Linked DNA regions of Homo sapiens: regions 2 and 3 are each linked to region 1. The links come from fine-mapping of genetic effects on gene expression. A gene starts in region 1. Each other region holds a variant in brackets. All regions are shown on one strand. Distances are from middle to middle.

Region 1 (8,257 bases):
GCCCCTCAACCCAGTGCTAATTTCCAGTTCCTAGTTGCTAATTCTCTCCCTCCACTCACAGCCAAGCTCTAAAAAGTCTCCCAGAGGGCTGGGTGCGGTGGCTCACACCTGTAATCCCAGCACTTTGGGAGGCCGAGGCGGGTGGATCATGAGGTCAGAAGATCGAGACCAGCCTGACCAACATGGTGAAACCCCATCTCTACTAAAAATACAAAATACAAAAATACAAAAATTAGCCGGGTGTGGTGGCGGGCACCTGTAATCCCAGCTACTCCGGAGGCTGAGGCAGGAGAATCGCTTGAACCACGGAGACAGAGGTTGCAGTGAGCCGAGATCAAGTGACTGCACTCCAGCCTAGCGACAGAGTGAGACTCTGTCTCAAAAAAAAAAAAAAAAAAAAAAAGTCTCCTAGACTTGGCTGTCTCCCTTCCTTGGCTCTTCTGTCATCCCCAAGATCGACATCCATCCCCTTCCACCAAATGGTTCTGCCAAGATGACCCAACTTCCAGGAAGCGCATCCCCTTCCTTATCACAGGACTGACCCCAGGCTACGGACACTCCTTTCTTCTCCCTGCCTTCTGGGCCACGCCCTCTCCCAGCTATCTCCCTGCCTGCAGCCTCTGCTGGGATTTTTTGCTCAGCAGGGGGTTTTGCACTGCCCCATCCGTCCTCCTGGGTGACAGCTGCTGGCCTTTCCAGGTGCACATTCCACCGCCCCCGCCCGCCTACTGGGCTCAAGGCAAGAGCTGCAGCCCAGCAAAGCCTCTGATCTCTTGGCTGCCTCTCACCTCCCGCCCCGACCTCTGGCCACTACAAGTTCTCATGGCCCGTCCACCTGCTGCTACCTCTCGCCCTCAGCCCATGTGTCTGCCTCATTTTTTTTATTTATTTACTTATTTATTTTTTAAGACAGAGTCTCACTCTGTTGCCCAGGCTACAGTCCGGTGGTGCGATCTCAGCTCACTGCAGCCTCCGCCTCCCGGGTTCAAGTGATTCTCCTGTCTCAGCCTCCCAAGTAGCTGGGATTACAGGTGCATGCCACAATGCCCGGCTAATTTTTGTATTTTTAGTAGAGATGGGTTTTACCATGTTGCCCAGGCGGGTCTTGAACTCCCGACCTCAAGCGATCTGCCTTGGCTTCCCAAAAAAGTGCTGGGATTACAGGCATGAGCCACCGCGCCCAGCCTATTTGTTCTTTTTAAATAAATAGAGACATAGGGTCTCAGTATGTCACCCAGGCTGGTCTTGAACTCCTGAGTTCAAGTGATCCTCCCACCTCCATCTCCCAGAGTGCTGAGATTACAGGTGAGAGCCACCACGCCCGGCCCACTCTTTATTCTGTAAGACTCAGCCCACCCATCCCCTAATCCAGGAAGCCTTCTGCGACCTCCTGGACTGGGTCAGGTGTCCCTCACTGTGCCACCTCATTCCCCATGCTACAAAGCACCTATCACAGTGAAATGTCACTCTCAGCCAGGTGTCTCCCCTGAAGTCAGCACTGTGCCTCATTGCTCAGCCTGTACTGGGCCCAGGGAACATTTGCTGACTATAATGACCAAGAGGAGGCAGCACCCGGCTTCAGGAGTGGCTGTGAACTGAGCTGGGGGTGGCGGTGGGGGCCCTCACCCATTCTTCTTAGGCAAATAGGCCTCCATGTCAAAGAAGAGGCCTTGGCGCTCTTTCATCTGGTTCTCCAGCTCCTGTGCGGCCCCCTCGGCCTCTGCTGGGAGGGAGGGTTTGCATCTGCGGGTAAGGCCAGAAACAGTCAGGGCAAGAGGACTCCCAAGTGTCCTCCCTGACTCCCACAGGGGCAGAAGGGCAAACAGGGCCCAGAGAGGGGAGGGGCGGTGCCCAGGGTCTCACAGCGCCAGCCCTCCCACCCCACACTCTGCCCATGGCGGGTGGGGTAGGGGATCCTAACTTCTTCAGGGCGAGGGCCAGCTCCTGGAGCCGCTTCTTCTGCCGCGTGATGGAGCTGGTGCAATTGTTCTGAAGTTTGGTCAGCTCCTCCAGCTTCAGGCGGTAGAGCCGATGGGTCTCCTGGGGGCCGGAGGGGAGAGGCTCAGGCCAGTTGGGGAGCTACTGAGCCAGAGCCTGCAGGCAGGACGTGGCGCTCAGGCTCCCCCAGGGCTGCTGGGAGGGTTTCGCTCAGCGGGAAAGGAGGTAGAACTGTGCCTGCCCAGGGATGAGGTGGCTGTCTCCCCAAGGCAGGCAAGGACCTGGGTGTCCTCCTGTGAGCCCAGAGACCCCCACAGCACCCCTCCTCCAAAAACAGACTAGGTGTTTTTGTTTTTGTTTTTGTTTTGAGACAGTCTTGTTCTGTTGCCCAGGCTGAAGTGCAATGGCAGGATCTCAGCTCACTCCAACCTCCGCCTCCCGGGTTCAAACCATTCTTCTGCCTCAGCCTCCCAAGTAGCTAGGATTACAGGCACCTGCCATCATGCCTGGCTAATTTTTGTATTTTTGTAGAGACAGGGTTTCACCATGTTGGCCAGGCTGGTCTTGAACTCCTGACCTCAGGTGATCTGCCTGCCTCGGCCTCCCAAAGTGCTGGGATTACAGGCATAAGCCACCGCACCCAGCCAAGGTTTTCTTAGTCTCAGCCCATCTGCTAGTTGTCCCCACCCTACAAGGACAGACTCTTTCTCCTACCTTGAGTCTGGAGCTTAGGCCCCCAGGGCCACCTCCTGGACCAAGCAGGCAGCCCAGAGCCACCCCTCTATCCTCTCAGCTCCTCCTGCCTATCTAGCCTTCCAGTACAGGAGGAGCTCAGGTTCTCAGGAATCCCTGACATCTTCTTCCCAGGTTAAAGGTCATCAGGTTTCAACCCTAGAGCCTCCTGCTCTAAGGCCAGCCCCACTCCCTTCCCCTAGCACCTTTGGCCCAAGGATTCCCCAAGCACTTTGCCCTGGTAGGTGAGTCTCAAGAAGGCGCAGCCTAGAGATGGGGCAAGGGGCAGTGTGAGGAGAGCCAAGCAGGGGCTGTGGCCAGGACAGCGGCGGCCAGGCGGGGAGACTGGGTCTGCTCAGTCTCTGGGGAGAAGCACCAATGGCAGGGGCCTTGGCAGGGCCAGGGGCAGCTGGGTTTCAATGCCCACAGGAAGCAGTTGGAACCAGTCCAGGAGAGGCCAAGGGCTAACCAAGCCATCAGCTGGCCAGGGCTCTACTCTGTCTGGATCTTGTTTCTCATGCCCAGGAGGGGTCACCACGCCCCCTCGGACCCCAGCACGTGCCACTTCTGCCCACCCACAGCCACCGCCCTCTTCCCTGCCTGGATGAGGCCAACAGCCTCCTCCTCCCTGGCCTCTGGACAGAACAGCCACGGTGGCCCTGGGGAGCTCAGTCCAGACAATTCCTCCCGTAGCTTTCCACTGGCCTCGGAGGGACTCTGATCTCTGCCAGGCCAGAGCGTCCCTGCAGGGCCTAGCCCCGCCCACCCCTCCCACCCGTCCCACCCCTCCCCTGGTTCTCCTTGATGCAGCCACATGGGCCTGTCAAGTCCCCTCTTTCCTTCCAAAGGCCTCGGCGGCGCGCGGTATCCCTCTGCCTGGGGCGTCCCCCATCCAGGCCGAGGACACCCCCCTAAACGCTGCTCCCCCGACCTGGGCTGCCTCTCGGGCGCTGCCCGCTGCGCGTTTGCTGAGTGGCTGACCCAAGGCTGGGCCCGCCCGTGTGTGACTCAGGCGGCCGCTCTCTTCTGGGAAGGGACGGGGTCGGGGTCTGGGCCCCTTTCCAAGGCCCTCATTGGAAGCCGAGGTCGCCCAGCGCGATGGGGTCCCGCCGGGGTTCCCGGACACTGGAGGTGGTGGCAGTGGACACCAGGACCAGGGGCCTCGCCCCCCTTGGCAGTGACGCCAGGGCCCCGACCCCTGACCCTTAGCTCCCCACTGCCTGACCCAGGGCTGCCCGACCCTTGACCCTGAGCCAGCGAGACGCGGCTCGGGGGCGACCCGGCGTCCGCAGCGGCGCTAACCTGGATGTTCTGGAAGTCCTGCTGTAGATCCTCCCAGTCCCGCAGGCAGTCGCCCAGCGGGCCCGGGGGCGGGGGCTGCATGGCTGCAGCGCCAGTAGCCAGTAGTGGAGGACGGCGCAGCAACCCCGGCCCACCCGAGGCTCCTCCGCCACCGCCCCCGTCCGCTTCCGGGCTCGCGCCGCCACGGGCACCAATGGGGAAAGGCCACGCCCCCCACCCCAGCCAATCCGGGACAGGGGCGGGGTATGGGCGGGGCCGTATGCAAGGGCGGTTGCTAGCCCCGGGACTCGCGGCCTGGACCGGGACTGGGACGGCTGCAGCCCCCGGGCCTGGACTGCACTGACTGTGCCAGCCGCGTGGTGCAGCCAGCAGGGCTCTGGCCCGTCATGCTGAGAGCAAACCAAGGTGCAGGGAGGTGACACCTGCTTGCAACATTTTCGTCCTTGGGAAGCTGAGCCTCTTTGGGGAAGGGAGTTAGAGCTGCTTCTCTCGCTTGGATTTTTACAGCGGCCTCCTTTCTCCCTGCCTCACCTCCACTGTCCCTTCTCGCGGCCACCGGACTGCCCTTCCCAAAACACAAGGCTGATTCCCCATCATGTTCATGCTTAAAACTTTCCAGCGGCTGTGTCCTGCCTACCAGGAGGTCCCTAATCGGAGCTCTGCAGCCATCCCGGGCTCTGTCCCAACTCACACCCTGAGGAAAGCCAGGGCTGTGTGTAAAGCCGTTCCCCCTCTGGCAAAACCCCACTCCTCCTTGAAGGCCTGCCCTTCTGTTGAGGGGAATCCCCCACCCCCTCCCACCCCCATCCCTCCACAGAGCGCGCTAAGTGGTGGGACGGCATTCATCTCTCTGTTCCCAGCCCCACCCACGCGGTGGCAGGGAATGGTTGCCGAATGGACTTGGGGAAGGTCCTGCATGGATGGACATCCTAATCCCCTACCAGTCCCCTAGTCTGTGCCGTCTCCTGATGCCCAGTTTGTTCTGTGGGTGCTGCCAGCTTTGGAGAAGTGCATTTGGAAAACAACTTCCAACTGGGTGCCGTGGCCCACACCTGTAATCCCAGCATTTTGGGGAGGCCGAGGCTGGAGGATCACTTGAGCCCAGAAGTTCGAGACCAGCCTAGGCAACAGAGCAAGACCCTGTTTCTACAAAAATAAAAATAAATTAGCCAGGTGTGATGGTGCATGCCTGCATTCCCAGCTACTCACTCAGGAGGTTGAGGTGGGAGGATCGCTTGAGCCCAGGGAAGTTGAGGCTGCAGTGAGCCATGATTGCGCCACTGCACTCCAGCCTGAGAGACACAGCAAGACCGTGCCTCCAAAAAAAAGGAAAGGGGGTAAAAAAAAGGAAAACTTTTAAGACCTTAGGAATTTCTAGAAACGTGGATAGGGAGATGGGGGAGGGGGTGAGAATCTCTCCTTGGTGAACACAGCCAGGCAGAAATGAGTGGGGAGCAGGGAAAGAAAATCTGTTTCAAGGGGTGGATGGCAGGAAGCGCTGGGGATGAGGCAAGGGTGTGATCCCATTCTAGGAGCCTGGGGGCTAGACAAGGCTGGGCTTGGTATCTCTGGGACTAGGGGACTGCCTATTGGTGGCTATTGTGACATCCTCTGTGAACCAACACAGGCAACCTCTGGGTACCCCCAGGCAGCCTCCAAAGGGTCTAAGTCACCAGGGGGATGCAGGGCAGCTGCTCTAGCAGCCAGATGCTCTTCCAGAGGCAGCCTCAGGGGTGCAGTTGGGATGGCCCGCGACACCTCAGGGATGCGGGTTCTTGGTGAACCTGAGCAGGGCGCATCAGCTAGGTGGCGTGAACAGGCACTTGGGAAGAATCAGTACAGGAGGCTAACATGAGACTTTCAGGCAGCAAAGGCCTTCTCCTTCCAGACAAGCCTGGGTATACACACTCTGGCCCTCCACCCACAAAATGCCCCCAGGTGAGGCTCTTCAGTACCCTTCGGTGGGCCTCGGAGAAGATCAGTAGAGCGGATCCATGATGTTTGTGATGGAATCTCCAAGGATAGTCTTCTCCCATTCCAGCAGCTGGCTCACCAATCCCCGATTTGGACACATGTTGTTTTTGCACTTCTTGACATAGGCCCAGGACCTCTATGAATACAAAGAGAGAAAGTGAACTTCACGATTGGTCCTGGGCCCTTTCCACTTGGATCAGAGGCAGCTTTCAGAGACAGGAGGCACTTGCACAGTGCCAGCAACACGGCTTAAGGGCTGGATGCAGAAACAGGGCAGCCTGGCATGAATGCATCAGTGCTGGGAGTCATGGGAGCTGACTCTGCCTTGGGCAAGCCCCTCTGCTTCTAAATCTGGTGACAGAAATAATTCCTATTTCAAACAGCTTCTGGGAAGATTAAGACAATATACATGAAACCACCTGTGGATGGCAAACACTATGCCAAGCCTAGTGCAGTCTCAACAAAGGTTTGCATTGTGACTGGACAAATTAATGGAAAGAGGAAGAGAACTGTGGGCAAATTCTCTGAAGAAGAAAATTCAAGCTGCCCTCCTTCAGGCATCCACCTTAAAGTACAGGAAGTGTTGCTGCATGAAGGAGGGTGAGCACCTGGTCTCCATCTGGATTGAGGACAAACGAAAAAGGGAAAGGCAAGAGTGGTGCCTAAAACTAGGAACAGAAGGAAATGGCCAGGCACAGTGGCTCATGCCTGTAATCCTGGCACTTTGGGGGGCCGAGACGGGTGGATCACCTGAGGTCAGGAGTTCGAGACTAGCCTGGCCAATGTGGCGAAACCCTGTCTCTACTAAAAAAATGCAAAAATTAGCCAAGTATGGTGGCACATGCCTGTAATCCCAGCTACTTGGGTGGCTGAGGCAGGAAAATTGCTTGAACCTGGGAGGCGGAGGTTGCAGTGAGCCGAGATTGCACCACTGCACTCCAGCCTGGGTGACAGAGCAAGACTCTGTCTCAAAAACAAAAAAGGAAGGAAGTGATGTCAACCTGATAAAGGCCATATATGAGAAGCCCACAGCTAACATCACACTCAATGGCGAAAGATAAAGTTTTTCCTCTAAGATCGGGAACAAGGCAAGGGTGCTTGCTTTCATCACTTCTGTTCAACATAGTCCTAGAAGTCCTAGCCAGAACAATGAGGCAAGAAAAAGAAATAAAAGGCATCTACAATGGATAGGAAGAAGTAACCTTACCTCTGGTTTGAAGATGACATGATTTCATATGTAGAAAACCCTAAAGATTACACACACACACAACACACACACACAGCTAATAAATTCAGCAAGGATGCAGGATACAAAACCAACATGCAAAAATTAGTTGCATGTCTATATACTAAACAATTCAAAAAGGAAATTAAGAAAACAATTCCATTTACAGTAGCATCAAAAAGAATAAAATATTTAACCAAGGAGGCAAAAGACTTGTACACTGAAAACTCCAAAACAGTGCTGAAAGAAATTAAAGGTACAAACAAATGAAAAGACATCCTGTGTTCATGGGTTGGAAAGCTTAATATTATTAAGATGCCAATACAACTCAAAGTAATCCACAGGTTTAAGGCAATCCCTATCAAAATCCCAACAACATTTTTTGTAGAAATAGAAAAATCCATCCTAAAATTCATATGGAATCTCAAAGGACCCCATAAAAAATATTTAAGAAGAACAAAGTTGTAGGTCTCACACTTCCTGATTTCAAACCTTAGTCTAACAAAACTACAGTAATCAAAACAGTATGGTATGGACATGAAGACAAAGAGACTAGTGGAATAGAATAGCCAGCCTAGCCTAGAAATAAACCCTTACCTATATGGTCAAGCAATTTTTTTTTTTTTTGAGACTGAGTCTCACTCTGTTGCCCAGGCTGGAGTGCAATTGTGCAATCTCAGCTTACTGCAACCTCCGCCTCCTGGGTTCAAGTGATCCTTGTGCCTCAGCCTCCCAAGTAACTGGGATTACAGGCATGTGCCACCACGCCTGGCTCATTTTTGTATTTTTAGCAGAGACGAGGTTTTGCCATGTCAGCCAGGCTGGTCTCAAACTCCTGACCTCAGGTGATCTGCCCACCTCTGCCTCCCAACCTGCTGGGATTACAGGTGTGAGCCACTGCACCGGGCCTGTCAAGGAATTTTTGATAGTATGCCAAGACCATTCGATGGGGGAAAAGGACAGTCATTTCAACAAATGGTGCTAGGAAAACTAGATACGCCATGCAAAGAATGAAATTGAAAACAGGAAATCAATAGAGAAAATCAAAAAAACCAAAAGCCGGTTCTTTGAAAAGATCAATAAAAT
Region 2 (7,735 bases), 170 kb after region 1:
GGGGCAGGAAGGAATGGGCCTCAAACTCCAGGAGGGGGCCCTTCTCATGGGTCCTGCTTTCTGGCCTCTCCTCTCTTACCCCTGGGCTGATCACCCTGGGAAGAACTAAGCCAAGGTTTCTCACCCTCAGGTCCGAGGGGTTCAATTAACGGGCCCTTAGGGAGGTGCGAGCCTCCTGAAACGATGCAAGGTGCCTGGCCTAATTTTTATATTTTTAGTAGAGATGGGGTTTCACCATATTGGCCAGGCTGGTCTCGAGTTCCTGACTTCAAGTGATCGGAATGCCTCGGGCACACAAAATGTTGGAATTACAGGCGTGAGCCAACGCGCCCGGCCAGCCCTATTTATTTAAGCCTATACATTTTGCACTTGTTAAAAGTATTTGAACATACAATTACCATGTTTTCTTTAAGCGGTCCCTCCCTGTTGCACACTTGGATAGTTTATTTTTTTAGACAAGGTTTACTTCAGTCTCGCAGGATAGAGTGCTGTGATGGGATCATAGCTCATTGCAGCCTTGAACCTTGGGGTTCAAGTATCTGGGAAGCTGAGGAGGGACTACAGAGATGGAGTCGCGCCATGTTGCCCAGGCCGCTCTTTAACTCCTGGCCTGAAGGGATCCTTCCGCCTCGGCGGAGCCCGGACATAGTTTTCTAGTTTTGACCCACAGAAACACTGTGCTGGGTCGGAGTTTGTCAACTACCCTTCTCCAGCCAGCAACACACAGAACATGGCGGGGAAGTCACGGTCACCAGGCTCCAAACCGAGGAGAAAACAGCCCAGCTCCAGGCACTGTAGCGTCACTGTGACATCGCCGAAGGCCGGCGCTATTACGTCGCCGGAAGGCCCGCGCCTGTGACGTCAGCGGAGGCGCGCCCCTTCTGTAGAACCAATCGGAACTCGAGGCGCGGCGGCTGGGTATTCCAGGAGAGCGCATGCGCAGACGCGTGGCCACAGACTGCCGGTCAGTGTCAGTAGGCGGCGGGTTAGTGTCCGCAGGCTCCGACTCGGCCGCCGACACCAATAAGCTACAAGGACGAGCTTTACCACTGCCTGTACTACTGCTACCTGCGCGACTTCCCAGCCTGCGGCGTAGGGCGCAGCAAGGGCCTGACGCTGAGCGAGTAGGCGCTGCGCACCAAGCGGCTGTGGCCCGGAGGGCACTGTCGGGCAGAAGCTCCTCAGTGGCCACCACAAGCCCGCTAGCTCCGGCTACAGCCCTTGCCGCACACTCGCGTCACCTGAGCCTGTGTAGGTGCGCCCCCCCAACTCCTCCCCCAGCCAGGTCCCGGGGACACCGGCAGCGTCCCCCACCGCCCGGCGCCGCTCATTCTGGGCAGGATCGGCCCCGTCTGAGGCTACACCGCATTAGGGAGCTGCACCCCTCGGCTTGACCTCTCATGGCCTTTGCAACAACATCAAAGCCTTTGGAACTTTGTAGGGGGTACGAGGGGCTAGGAAACCAAGAAAACATCTCTTTAAAAATATAAGCGATCGGGCCGGGCACGGTGGCTCACGCCTTTAATCCCAGCACTTTGGGAGGCCGAGACAGGTGGATCACGAGGTCGGAAATTCAAGACCATCCTGGCCAGCATGGTGAATGCCGTCTATACTAAAAATAAAAAATTAGCCGGGCGTGGTGGCGGGCACATGTAATACCAGCTATTCGGGAGGCTGAGGCAGAGGCAGAGAATTGCTTGAACCCGGGGGGCGGCGGCTGCAGTGAGCCGAGATCGCGCCACTGCACTCCAGCCTGGGCGACAGACCGAGACTCCAACTAAAAAAAAAAAAATATATATATATATATATATATATATATATATATATTTGGAGCCCGGGAGGTTGAGGTTACCGTGAGCTGAGATTACGCCACTGCACTTCAGCCTGGGTGACAGAGGGAGACCATGTCTCTAAAAAAAATTACATGTGAGTGAGAGCTTTTCTTCCAGTGCTCATGCTCAGACTGAAGAAAGTAATTGGGCCGGCCTGGTAACTCACGCCCTTAATCCTAGCACTTTGGGAGGCCGAGGTGGGCAGATCCCTTGAGCTCAGGCGTTCCAGACTAGCTTGAGCAACATGGTGAAATTCGGTCTCTACAAAAATACAAAAAATTAGCTGGGCGTCGTGGTGGGCGCCTGTAGTCCCAGCTACTCAGGAGGCTGAGGCAGGAGAATGGTGTGAACCCGGGAGGCAGAGCTTGCAGTGAGCCGAGATCGCGCCATTGCACTCCAGCCTGGGCGACAGAGTGAGACTCCATCTCAAAAAAAAGAAAATGGAAACTTTTGCCAGTGATTCCCTTCCTTCAAACTAATGATAAGGAAATGACGCTGTTCTGTTTTGTTTTCTTTTTGCATGTTTTTTTTTCTTTTTTGAGAGAGGGTCTTGCTCTGTTGCCCAGGCTGGAGTGAGGTGGCGCAATCATGGCTCACTGCAGCCTCGACCTCCCAGACTCAAGCAATCCTTTCCCCAGCCTCCCAAGTAGCTGAGACTGCAGGTGTTTACTACCACAGTTGGCTAATTTTTGTATTTTTTGTAGAGACAGGGTTTCACCATGTTGCCCAGGGTGGTCTCAAACTCCTGGGCTCAGCTATCCTCTACCCTCGGCCTCCCAAAGTGCTGGGATTACAGGCGTGAGCCACTGTACCTGGCTGATGCTGTTCTTTTCAAATGCATATTTA[CT/C]TTTTTTTTTTTTTTTTTTTTTTTTGAGATGGAGTCTCACTCTGTCTCCCCAGCTGGAGTGCAGTGGTGCAATCTTGGCTCACTGCAGCCTGGTCTTGAACTCCTGACCTCAGATGATCCACATGCCTTGGCATCCCAAATTGCTGGGATTACAGGTGTGATCCACCACACGTGACGATTTTGCTCATTTTAGATACTAGAACTTGTTAATTAAAAAAATATATATATTTTTTGAGCTGGAGTGCAGTGGCATGATCTCGGCTCACTGCCACCTCCGCCTCCTGGGTTCAAGTGATTCTCCTGCCTCAGCCTCTCGAGTAGCTGGGACTACAGGCACATGCCACCATGCCCAGCTAATTTTTGTATTTTTAGTAGAGACAGGGTTTCGCCATGTTGGCCAGGATGGTCTTGATCTCTTGACCTCATGATCCACCTGCCTCGGCCTCCCAAAATGCATGAGCCACTGCGCCCAGCCAAAAAAAAATTTTTTTTTGAGGCAAAATCTCACTCTGTCATGCAGGCTGGAGTACAGTGGCACAGTCACAGCTCACTGCAGCCTCGACTTCCTTGACTCAGGTGATTCTCCCACCATAGTCTCCAAGTATCTGGGACTACAGGTACACGCCAGCACACCTGGCTAATTTTTGTTTGTTTGTTTGTTTTTTGAGATAGAGTCTCACTCTGTTGCCCAGGCTAGAGTGCAGTGGCGTGACCTCGGCTCACTGCAAGCTCTGCCTCCTGGGTTCATGCCATTCTCCTGCCTCCACCTCCTGAGTAGCTGGGACTACAGGTGCCTGTCACCACGTCTGGCTAAATTTTTTGTATTTTTAATAGAGACAGGGTTTCACCGTATTAGCCAGGATGGTCTTGATCTCCTGACCTCATGATCTGCCCGCCTCAGCCTCCCAAAGTCCTGGGATTACAGGCATGAGCCACCGCGTCCAGCCCACACCCAGCTAATTTTTTTTTTTGTATTTTGTAGAGAAGGTGTTTTGCCATATTGCCCAGGCTGGTCTCAAACTCCTGGGCTTCAAGCGATCTTCCAGCCTCAGCCTCCTGAAGTGCTAGGATTACAGGCATGAGTCACTGCTCCCAGCCTTTTTAATTCAATTTAAATTATAAATGTGATCGCTATAGAAAATATGTGTATTATTTATCTGCTGCTATGTAACAAATTACTCCAGACCTAGTGGCTTAAAATAAATACTTAGGGCCAGGCACAGTGGCTCATGCCTGTAATCCCAATACTTTGGGAGGCCGAGGTGGGCAGATGGCTTGAGTCCAGCAGTTTAAGATCAGCCTGGGCAACATAGTAAGACTCCATCCCTACAGAAAATGCAAACATTAGCCAGGCGTGGTGGTGCACACCTGTGGTCCCAGCTACTCAGGAGGCTGATGGGGGAGAATCACTTGAGCCCGGGAGGAAGAGGTTACAGTGAGCCAAGATCACAACACCGCACTCCAGCCTGGGTGACAGAGTGAGACTCTGTCTCAAAAATAAATAAATAAATAAATAAATAAATAAATAAATAAAATACTTACTTAGGATCTCCATTTCTGTGGGTCAGGAATTCAGGAGTGGCATAGCTGGGTCATTTGGGCTCAGGGTGTCTCATGACATTGCACTCAAGCTGTCCACTGAGACTGCAGTCACCTAAAGCCTGTTTCCAAGATGGCTCCCTCATGTGACTGCTGACAGGAGGCCTCAGTTCCTGTTACATGAGCCTCTCTACAGGCTGCTTAGGTGTCATGGTGTGACAGCTGGCTTTCCCAAGTGAGTAATCAAAGAGTGAGCAAGGAGGAAGCCACAGTACCTTTTATGATGTAGTTTGCAAAGTTGCAAGCCATCACTTTTGCTTTTTCCTATCTGTCAGAAGGGAATCACGTAACCCAGCTCACATTCAAGGGGATAGGGACTGGGCTCTGCCGTTGAAGAGGGTATCAGAGAATTTGGGCACATATTTTAAATGACCATACTATGTTTAATTATTGCAAGTACGGTCACTGTAGAAAAATTGGAAAATAGGGACAAGCAAAAAAAAAAGTCACTTGTAATTCCATGAATCAATGGATAACATTACTAGTTGGGTGTATATAATTCCAATATTCAAAATATATATTTTCTCAAAATATAAACACACTATATATACTGTCGTGTAATCTGCTCTTTCACCTAATGTATTGACTATATTATAAAAAATACCTTTCATTTTCATGTCAAATATTCTTTCCTTTTTTTTTTTTTGAGACGGAGCTTCATTCTTGTCACCCAGGCTAGAGTGCACTGGTGCGATCTCTGCTCACTGCAACCTCTGCCTCACGAGTTGAAGCGATTCTGCTGCCTCAGCCTCCCTAGTAGCTGGGATTACAAGCATGAGCCACCATGTCGAGCTAATTTTTTTTTTTTTTTGAGACGGAGTCACTCTGTCACCCAGGCTGGAGTGCAGAGGTGCAATCTCGGCTCACTGCAAGCTCTGCCTCCTGGGTTCATGCCATTCTCCTGCCTCAGCCTCCCGAGTAACTGGGACTACAGGTGCCCGCCACTACACCTGGCTAATTTTTTGTATTTTTTAGTAAAGACAGGGTTTCACCGTGTTAGCCAGGATGGTCTTGATCTCCTGACCTCATGATCCACCCGCCTCGGCCTCCCAAAGTGCTGGGATTACAGGTGTGAGCCACCAAGCCCGGCCGAGCTAATTTTTTTTGTATTTTTAGTAGAGACAGGGTTTCACCATGTTACTAGGCTAGTCTCAGACTCTTGACCTCAAGTGATCACCCACCTTGGCCTCCTGAAGTGCTGGAATTACAGGCGTGAGCCAACGCTCCCGGCCTAAATGTTTTTTCTTTATTTATTTGAAGAAGTTCTTTATATGTGAAGCTCATTAACCTTTTACCTGCCACGTGGAGTGTGTCATTTGTCTTGTTTTTGATTTTAAAAAACTATTCATTCCTAGATGGGCATTACCCTTATTAAACAACGAATAGAATATGTGATATCCAATGATACATTTAAGACAAGACAACCAATATCTTGATGTACATAAAGACAAACTTCAGAAGACAAATATTAAATGTTTTAACATACATTTGAATAAACTTTACTTACAAATTATTTAACTGGAAAAGGAATTTGTGTTCAAAAAATGTTTTCACTGATGGAAAAATAAATCTAACAAAACCAATATGTGAAAACATTGATTTACAAAGCCAAAATATATTATATCTTAGTTTCATTTCCTATATACCCTCAATGAGGTCTCCTCTTTTTTTTTTTTTTTAACGGAGACAGAGGTCTCACTATGTTGTCCAGGATGGTCTTGAACTCCTGGCCTCAAGTGATCCTCCTGCCTCGGCCTCCCAAAGGACTGGGATAACAGGGCTGAGCCACTGTGCCTGGCTGAGGTTCTCATTAAAAGAAAATAGGCTAGGCGCGGTGGCTCACACCTGTAATCCCAGCACTTTGGGAGGCCGAGGCGGGCGGATCACGAGGTCAAGAGATCCAGACCGTCTTGGCCAACGTGGTGAAACTCCGCCTCTACTAAAAATACAAAAAGTAGCCTGGCGTGGTGGCAGGCGTCTGTAGTTCCAGCTACTCGGGAGGCTGAGGCAGGAGAATGGCGTGAACCCGGGAGGCAGAGCTTGCAGTGAGCCGAGATTGTGCCACCGCACTCCAGCCTGGATGACAGAATGAGACTTTGTCTCAAAAATAAAAAAAAAAGAAAATAAAGGCCAGGAGCGGTGGCTTATACCTGTAATCCCAGCTCTTTGGGAGTCTGAGGTGGGTGGATCACCTGAGTTCAGGAGTTTGAGACCAGCCTGACCAACATGGTGAAACCCCATCTCTACTAAAAATACAAGAAATTAGCTGGGCCTGGTGGCAGGCACCTGTAATCCCAGCTACTCAGGAGGCTGAGGCAGGAGAATCGCTTGAACCTGAAAGGCAGAGGTTGTAGTGAGCTGAGATTGTGCCACTGCACTCCAGCCTGGGTGACAGGGCAAGACTCTGTCTCAAAATAAATACACGCCCATGCCAGGCCGGGCTTGGTGGCTTACTCCTGTAATCCCAGCACTTTGGGAGGCCAAGGTGGGTGGACCTCTTGACCCCTGGAGTTTGACACCAGCCTGGGCAACATAGTGAGACCCTTGTCTCTACAAAAAATAAAAAGTTAGCCGGGCGTGGTGGCTGGTACCTGTGGTCCCAGCTACTTGGGAGGCTGAGGTGGGAGGATTGCTTGAGCCTGGGAGGTCAAGGCTGCAGTGAGCTGTGATTGCACCACTGCACTCCAGCCTGGACAACAGAGTAACACCTTGTCTCAAAAATACAAACATGAGGCCAGGCACGATGGCTAATGCCTGTAATCCCAGGACTTTGGGAGGCTGAGGCAGGCAGATCACCTGAGGTCAGGAGTTTGAAACCAACCTGGCCAACATTGTAAACCCCGTCTCTACTAAAAATACTAAAAATAATTAGCCAGGTGTGGTGGCACATGCCTATAGTTCCAGCCACTCAGGAGGTTGAGGCAGGAGAATCACTTGAATCCCGGAAGCGGAGGTTGCAGTGAGCCAATATTTGTGCCATTGCACTCCAGCCTGGGCAACAGAGCAAGATTCTGTCTCAAAAAAAAATACATGGATGCATATATACATATACATACATACTACATGCATACATACATACCAACACCAGGTTCAATGCCTGTCCTGAGTGCCCACCAGACCCTGCCCCCAGCAATCAGCTTGGCTACCATCCACCAACACCCCCCAAGCACGTTCTGACCTCTTAGGAGCAGGGGTGGGCCATTTCTCCCAGAATCCCCAAATCATATCAGGCCTCTCCCCGCAGTTCTCTTGGAGGGAGGGAATTAACCAAATCATCCGTCCCAGGGTTCCTGCCACCTTCATTCCCCAGCCCCCAACTCCAGATTCTTAAGCCTTTCCAGGCCCTGCAGGTCTCAGTCTCCCACAAGCAGTGATCAAAACCCCACTGTGTCAAGCTCAGGAGCCCTAGAGCTCCCAGATGGTTAAGAAGGGGGATCCCCAGATGGTTCACCCCAGG
Region 3 (8,518 bases), 53 kb before region 1:
GAGATCGGGAGTTTGACATCAGCCTGGACAACGTGGTGAAACCCCATCTCTACAAAAAAAAAAAAAAAACAAAAAAACCAAAAATTAGCCAGGCATGTTGGCGGGTGCCTGTAATTCCAGCTACCTGGGAGGCTGAGGCAGGAGAATTGCTTGAACCTGGGAGGCGGAGGTTGCAGTGAGCCTAGATTGTGCCACTGTACTCCAGCCTGGGGACAAGAGCCAGACCCTGTCTCAAAAAAAAAAAAAAAAAAAAAAAAAAGAAGGCCGTGTTTGGTGGCTCACGTCTGTAATCCCAGCACTTTGGAAGGCTGAGGGGGTGGATCACCTGAGGTCAGGAGTTTGAGACCAGCCTGGCCAGCATGGCGAAACCCCATCTCTACTAAAAATACAAAAATTAGCCAGGCGTGGTGGCAGGCACCTGTAATCCCAGCTACTCGGGAGGCTGAGGCAGGAGAATCGCTTGAACCTGGGAGGCAGAGGTTGCAGTGAGCCGAGATCGTGCCATTGCACTCCAGCCTGGGCGACAAGAGCAAAACTCCATCTAAAAAAAAAAACAATTGAGGCAAAAGTGGGGATGGTCAGGAGGATGAACCAGCGTGAACTCCTGTGGAGAGTTTTGTGCCTGTAAATCACCTTGTGCCACCTTTTAATGTTGACGCTGGATTATATCCATGCAATGCCCTGGAGCTTAGGGGAGCTGTGGTCTCGTCCCCTTGGCATTCAAGCCAAGGAGCCAAGGCCGCAGAGATGCTGCTAGAAGCAGGCACGGGGAGCTGCAGCTGCAGCATCAGCCCCTGTGGGCCTGGTCAGTTCGATTTGTGCTGAGTCATGCCCACTGTTCGCCTGCTGTCCCTCCTGTCCCCCCAGTCACGCTTGCACAGATCTGACTCAGCAGCTGCCTTCCTCCTTTCACGTCATTGCATCGGGCACATGCTGGTCATGTGTTTCTAAATTAAGTCCTGTTGTGTGGGGAAAAGGCCATCAGCTGGGAGCGTTTGGCCATGGCCATCTTCAGTGGAGAATGTTCTCCAGGATACCTTGGTGAAAGCCCCGTGACTGCATTGATATTAGGGGTGCAGGCATCGTTGTACAGTAGTACCTTCCTGTAGCAGCATTCTGATCACAGCACCCCCTTGCCCTGTCCTCACCAGCTTCCCCAGGGCCAAACACCTTAGACTGGCATACAGGCCCCTAGGCCCTTACGCACTCATCTGGGTGTCTCTTAAAAGTTTATCTCGGCCGAGTGTGGTGGCTCTTACCTGTTATCCCAGCACTTTGGGAGGCCAAGATGGGAGGATTGCTTGAGCCTAGGAGTTTGAGACCAGCCTGGGCAACTTAGTGAGACCCCATCTCTACAAAAAAATTTAAAAAATCAGCTGGTATGGTGGTGCATGCCTATGGTCTCAGCTATGCAGGAGGCTGAGGGAGGAGGATTGCTTGAGCCCAGGAGTTAGAGGCTGCAGTGAGCTGTGATCACACCACTGCACTGCAGCCTTGGTGACTCCAGCCTGTTCCGTGAATGAATGAATGCTTATCTCTTATTCGCCATCTATGCATCCCCACATAAAAACACATCCCATTGCACCACACTTGAGTTACCCCAGACCCCGAGTTTCTCGTGTTCTAGGCTCTGGTACACGCTTCCTCTATCGGTAGCTTCGCTCATCCCCCTAATCTGACTGGTGGACCCTGATCATTCTTCACAATCCAGCCCAGATGTTGGCCTCTGGGAGCCCCTTCCTTGACTGTTTCAGACTGTCATGCCTGCTTTTTCCTTCCAGCTCTATTTCCCCTGCACCTGGCCTCCCCATGCAGCCGTGACTGTTGGGATAGGTCTGCCCTTTCTCATAGCAGGAGGACACCTTGGGGCAAGGTTGGCATGTCTGCTCCTGCCTGAACCCACACAGTTCCTGGAGTGCAGCAGGTGCTCCTCAGCTGTTTGCTGCACGCATGGACGTAAGAGTGACAGAAGCATGTCCTTCGACATGACGTTTTTGTACCTGAACATTGTCTAGAGGCTTTCCAGACTGTAAGCTCTGTGGGATTAGGAGCCTGCCTGCCTCGCACTCCCTGGCATCCTTAGTGCTTTGGGCCTCACAGGCCAGCGGAGCCCTCGTGCGGGTTCCAGGCCTGCTTTGGTGGGAGTGCTCAGTACTTTTAGCCACACAGAGCCGTGGCCTGCAAGGCTTTCGGAGTACATCTCTAGCACATCTGAGAATCCGGAAGCAACTCAGAGTTTCTGGAATGGATTTCACAAAGTCTGTGAATAAGAAGGCCCCACAGGCCCTACTCAACAGCTTTTTTTTTTTTTTTTTTTTTTAAATACAGAAGATGCTAGTCTTCAAAGAACCTCTTTACTCTTTTACTCTTTTTCTTTTTTTTTCGAGACAGAGTCTCATTCTATCGCCCAGGCTGGAGTGCAGTGGCATGATCTTGGCTCACTGCAACCTTCACCTCCTAGGTGCAAGTGATTCTCCTGCCTCAGCAGCCTCCAGAGTAGCTGGAATTACAGGGGTGCGCCACCATACTTGGCTAATTTTTGTATTTTTAGTAGAGACTGGGTTTCCCAATGTTGGCCAGGCTGGTCTCGAGCTCCTGACCTCAAGTGATCCACCCGCCTCAGCCTCCCAAAGTGTTGGGATTACAGGCGTGAGCCACCGCACCTGGCCCTCTTTACTCTTATTATATAGTGATGGGGTCTTGCTTTGTTGCCCAGGCTGGAGTGCAGGGATACTCACTGCAGCCTCAACCTGCAGGGCTCAAGTGATCTCCTGCCTTACCTCCCAAATAGCTGGGACTACAGACCTGAGCCAACGCTCCCCACCTCTTTACTCTTATTTTATTTTATATTTATTTATTTATTGAGACGGAGTCTCACTGTGTTGCCCAGGCTGGAGTGCAATGGTGTCATCTTGGCTCACTGCAGCCTCCGCCTCCTGGGTTCAAGTGATTCTCCTGCCTCAGCCTCCCAAGTACCTGGGATTACAGGCACGCACCACCACGCCTGGCTAGTTATTTTTGTATTTTTAGTAGAGATGGGGTTTCGCCATGTTGGCCAGGCTGGTCTCAAACTCCTGACCTCAGGTGATCCACCTGCCTCAGCCTCCCAAAGTGCTGGGATTCCAGGCGTGAGCCGCTGTGCCTGGCTTACTCTTATCTTAGATATCACGCTAACAAGCAGCTGATTTCCCAATTTACGCAGATTCAAAGCAGCCAATTAGAAATGGGTGAGAGACTTTTGAAAAAAAACGTAGGCACTCTCGTGGCCGGGTGCAGTGGCTCACACCTGTAATACCAGCACTTTGGGAGGCTGAGGCAGGTGGATCACGAAGTCAGGAGATCGAGACCATCCTGGCTAATATGGTGAAACCCCATCTCTACTAAAAACACAAAAAATTAGCCGGGTGTGGTGGCAGGCGCCTGTAGTCCCAGCTACTCAGGAGGCTAAGGAAGGAGAATGGCGTGAACCCAGGAGGCGGAGCTTGCTGTCAGCTGAGATTGCGCCACTGTACTCCAGCCTGGACGACAGAGCAAGACTCCATCTCAAAAAAGAAAAAAGAAAAAACGTAGGCACTCTCATAATGGTGAGGGTCATCCTGCCTCAAGAAAAGACAAACACTATCAACAACAAAGATGCAGGGGCCGGGTGTGCTGGCTTACACCTGGAATCCCAGGACTTTGGGAGGCCAAGGTGCGAGGATCGCTTGAGCCCAGGAGTTTGAGACCAGCCTGGGCAACCAAGCGAGACCCCATCTCTACAGAAATAAAAGTTTTTAAAAAATTAGCTCGGTGAGGTGGTGCATACCTATAGTCTCAGCTACTTGGGAGGCTAAGGTGGGAGGATGGCTTGAGGCCAGGAGTATGAGGGTGCAGTGAACTATGCTACTGCTTTCCACCCTGGGTAACAGAGTGAGACTGTGTCTCTCAAAACAAGCAAACAGACCAAAAAGATGCAGGAACCTGAGATCCCACAGCCTGGGTTCCCTCTGTGTGCAAGCAACCTCTCCTGCCTCTTTAGGCCCTAAGTATGTTGTACAATGACACGATGGCCGAGTAGTCTACAAAAGGAACCGTGCGTGGACTCGAGACAGCATGGACATGGTTCACGTATTCCGGAAGTATTTCTCTAGCTGTGTAGAATTTTAGAGCTGAGGATGATCCTTGGTGACCAGCTCCATATTGCTTTGTGGAGAAGAAACCTGAGTCCTGGGAGGTCAAGTAACCCGTTCAGACTCCCACAACCAGAGCCTCCGGCATCTGTACTGCCCAGTCAGTACAGAGCTCCGGTAACTAGGTGCACTTCAGTTATCTAGAGTAGGCGCTAATAACTTATTTCTTGTCAGAGGCCAGGTAATAAATATTTTTTAGGCTTTGCATGCCAAGAAGTAAAATCTAGGATGTTATATATAA[T/C]GAGAGGCAACAAGTTTCCATGTTTTTTGTTGATGAAATTCAAATAAGGCTGGTTGCGGTGGTTCACACCTGTAATCCCAGCACTTTGGGAGGCCAAGGCGGGAGAATTGCTTGAGCCCAGGTGTTTGAGACCAGCCTGGGCAACTTAGCCAGACCCTGTCTCTATAATTTGAAATATATATTTTTAAAAGAAATTCGAGTAATAACTAATAACAGTTGAGTGCAAGTTTTTAATACAGGTTTGTTAATAAGAAGAATGGAATGATTTTTGTAGGGATAACAATTTTGGGCCAGGTGCCATGACTCACGCCTCTAATCCCAGCACTCTTGGAGGCTGAGGTGGGAGGATCGCTTGAGTCCAGGAGTTTGAGACCAGCCTGGGCAACATGGCTAACCCCTGTCTCTACAAAAAAATATTTAAAAAGTTAGCTGGGCATGGTGGGTAGTATACACCTGTAGTCCCAACTACTGTGGAGACTGAGGTGGGAGGATCACTTGAGCCCAGAAGGCTGAGGCTGGAGTGAGCTGCGATTGTGCCACTGCACTGCAGTCTGGGTGACAAAGCAAGACCCAGTCTCAAAAAAACAAAAAACAGAAAACAATTTTGTTTCATTGGGGTTCTGAATTAGTGTTCCCAAACATCAAAATCTGTTGCAAATATCCCCGTGTCAGTGCTCATCTGTAATGAGATTGTATAGGTGACATCTTTGAAAATATCTTTTCACACAAATAGGTACTGCCAAGTTATATTGGTCAGGGAGCATAAATTTTGATGGGGCATTTTAATCATTGGAAGACAGCATTTATAGATTTTTTTTTTTAGATTCCCCTCTTGATATTTGCCTTTTTGCATTATTGCATTGCAGATCAGCCACTTCCAATTGAAGGTTAGATGAGAGCTGCTCAATTGTACAGTTAAATGGATTTTAAAATATGGGAATTTCCTTCATACTTAGATCAAGATCTGAAAAACGCTGCTAGGGCTAGAACTAGCAGCTCAAAGTTTTTGTTTTTTTTGAGCTCAAGGTTTGAGCTCAAAAAAATGTGCAAAGGTTTTTCACTTGTTCTAACCTTGACAGTCTAGGAATTGTATGGCGCAGGTTGACATTACTTGTGATTCATACAATGTTAATTTCATTGAAATGACTTTACCGCAATATAAGTTTTGCATATAACTGCTGTTTTGCCTTATAATTTTAGATTGGCCTCATTAAGAAACATCAAGTCTGCAGCAAAAGCTAATTTCCAAAGCGATTTAGTATTTGGTAATAGTGGTTGAGGGCAGTTCTTTCTTTTTTCTTTTTCTTTTTTTTTTTTTATTGAGATGGAGTCTTGCTCTGTCACCCAGGCTGGAGTGCAGTGGCATGATCTCGGCTCATTACAACCTCCACCTCCCAGGTTCAAGTGTTTCTTCTGCCTCAGCCTCCTGAGTAGCTGGGACTACAGGCACGTGGCACCACACCCAGCTAATTTTTTGTATTTTTAGTAGAGATGGGGTTTCACCGTGTTAGCCAGGATGGTCTCGATCTCCTCACCTTGTGATCCGCCTGCCTCGGCTTCCCAAAATGCTGGGTTTACAGGCATGAGCCACCGTGCCCGGCCCTCTCTTTTTTTATTTTTTATTTTTATTTTTAGACTAAGAGGGCAGTACTTTTCAGTTATTCTTGTTCAGAAAAGATTTAATATTCACTCTGAGCTCAAAATAGTCACACCAGACTTTACCACTGCTAAGCTGCTGAACTGCTGTATGGTAGGCCAGTTAGGATATTCAGCTTCTATTTTTGACAAAAATCCTTAAGACCAACTTAGGTTAAGTCCATGAGAGCAGATACTGTTGACATTCCCTTGTTCGATCACATATAATAGATTCAAATTTTTTGCATAATATCTGCTGGTGAATAATATAGTGAACAACCATAGGCTCCAACTAAGCCTTTTTCTGCCCCCCACATTCATTATAACACATCTTAGTGGATTCCATTTCAGATTGTACTAAACTTTTCTCAACTTCTTTGAAAATGCTCTTATTTGTAGTTGTTTCATGCTAATTCTTCAAACTTGGTATTGACTCCCCAAGTAAACAACAACTGAAAAGTATTGGTAACGTCTTTAGATTCATCAAGAGCCAAGGAATTGCATTCTTAAACCCTCTTGGTGGCTTCCCTGTAAATGCTTCCAAGATATGAGCGAATGCTATAGAAATTGCAGGAAAGTCCAAAGGGCTGCGCGTCTCCTGTGGCTCAGTCTTATTTCATACCTGCAACATCTTTTAAGGGAAATTTGCAAAAGGGAGAATTATCAACTTAAAAAAAAAATAGCCAAGGAAACCTCGACTCTTCAAGGAAGCAAGGAAACGTGCTCTCCTTGGGAGTGACATTAGAGGAGGCCCAGTGTGAGTCAGGACTTCATCACCACCTGGCGGAACCAGGGAGCCCCACCCCATGTGTCAGTGGAGATCATGTGCTGTCTTCCCTCTCCAAGCTAGGGTTTGTCAGCAGAGGCCCAGGAGGGAGACTGAATCTCGCCTGACAGCAATGAACTGATACCTTCCTTCCCTATAAGCAGGTGACAGACAATATTTAATAAAATCAAAAAAGGCTGGGTGCAATGGCTTACACCTGTAATCCCAACACTTTGGGAGGCCAAGGTGGGTGGATCACTTGAGGCCAGGAGTTTGAGACCAGCCCCAGCAACATGGTGAGACCCTGTCTTTACTAAAAATACAAAAAAATAAATTAGCCAGGCGTGGTGGCACACGCCTGTAATCACAGCTACTCTGGTGGCTGAGGCATGAGAATCAGTTGAACCTGGGAGGCAGAGATTGCAGTGCACTGAGATCACACAATTGCACTCCAGCCTGGGCAATAGAGACAGACTCTGTCTCAAAAATAAAATAGGCTTAAATAAGATTCAGGATCTTAAAGTACCCAGAATGCCCAGAATACAATAAAAATCAATCACTATACCAAGAACCACAAAACTCTCAACTTGAATGAGAAAAGAGAGTCAACAGACACCAGCATCAGGATGACACAGATGTTGGAATTAAGATATAGAGAAGAATGAAACAGATGTCTTAGAACCGAAATATACAATAGTCAAAATAGGAAACTGAATGGATGACTCCACAGCAAAATGGAGGAGACAGAAGAGAGAATCCATGAACTTGAAGTTAGAGCAGTAGAAATCACCTAACCTAAACAACAGAAAATAGACTGAAAACCAAAACAAAACAAATGAACAGAGCCTCAGGATTTTGTGGGACTAATAACAAAAGATCTGACTTTCATGTCACCCAAGTCCCAGGAGAAGAAGAGAAAGAGAGTGAGGCTGAAAAGTTATTTAAAAAATAATGGCGGCCGGGCACGGTGGCTCACTCCTATAATCCCAGCACTTTGGGAGACAGAGGTGGGCAGAATCTCAGGAGTTCATTACCAGACTGGGCAATGTGGCAAAACCCTGTCTCTACTAAAAATACAAAAATTAGCCAGGTGTGGTGAGGCACACCTGTAGTCCCACCTACTCAGGAGGCCTGAGGCAGGAGGATCCCTTGAGCCCGGAGGATCCCTCAAGCCCAGAAAGTTGAGGCTTCAGTGAACAGTGATTGCACCACTATGCCTCCAGCCTGGGTGATAGAGCAAGACCTTGTCTCCTAAAACAAAAAAGAAAAGAAAAGAAAAGTTGCTATATTTTGCAAAAGACATAAATCTACAGATTCAAGAAACTGAGTGAACCCCACAGAAGGTAAACACAAAGAAATCTGCACCAACATCTCAGTACAGATAATAAACTTCCTGGGTACTCTGGCTATTGTGGCTGTGGAGCGATCTGTCTGAGTCACTCTTGGACACTGCTTTTTAACAGGTCACCTTGGAGAGTGTAGTGTTCCCCGAGTACCTCTCAGTCCCTGTGGGTTGCGCTGTCAGGCAACAGTAGGGTATGGTTCCATGAGGGTTTTCCCTCATCTTGAAGCCACTAAACCTTGGCAGAGGGGCTTGTGAACCTGAATGACCCCGCTCCCCCTGCAGCCAGAAGGTGCAGCCCCTGGTGCCAGAGCCTTGTCTAGGTGGCCCTGACATGACAGTGACAGCTAAAGGGTTGACTAAAT

Which allele goes with the higher level. Alleles are on the strand shown, and positions count from the first base shown. SD is a standard deviation of normalised expression in the study named. Not every link is listed here.
For the expression in subcutaneous fat of the gene that starts at base 4,078 in region 1, allele CT in region 2 goes with a higher level than allele C (large effect, 1.3 SD a copy in FUSION).

The links. PIP is the estimated chance that this variant, and not a neighbour inherited with it, causes the effect.
Region 2: its variant is the best candidate, but not a certain one, in a credible set for the expression of TMEM120A in subcutaneous fat (FUSION, PIP 0.87).
Region 3: its variant is the best candidate, but not a certain one, in a credible set for the expression of TMEM120A in whole blood (TOPMed, PIP 0.71).

What each region holds. Positions count from the first base shown.
Region 1 is chr7:75,990,518-75,998,774 of GRCh38, forward strand. It overlaps TMEM120A (transmembrane protein 120A), which reads right to left and starts at 4,078. Exons shown (of 12, transcript NM_031925.3): 1 at 3,973-4,078; 2 at 1,922-2,040; 3 at 1,627-1,743. The coding sequence starts at 4,053. It overlaps STYXL1 (serine/threonine/tyrosine interacting like 1), which reads right to left. Exons shown (of 9, transcript NM_001317785.2): 9 at 5,825-6,082. The coding sequence ends at 5,951. RefSeq lists silencers at 514-808, 3,800-3,859, 3,870-4,319 and an enhancer at 1,559-1,618.
Region 2 is chr7:76,165,763-76,173,497 of GRCh38, forward strand. No RefSeq gene overlaps it. Among named protein-coding and RNA genes, the nearest start is that of SRRM3, 32 kb to the right of the region's middle. The variant CT/C (reference allele first, on the strand shown) is at 2,679.
Region 3 is chr7:75,937,239-75,945,756 of GRCh38, forward strand. The region is part of intron 1 of POR (cytochrome p450 oxidoreductase); the gene reads left to right. SNORA14A (small nucleolar RNA, H/ACA box 14A) reads left to right here and starts at 6,545; the gene lies at 6,545-6,678. RefSeq lists an enhancer at 1-388. The variant T/C (reference allele first, on the strand shown) is at 4,411.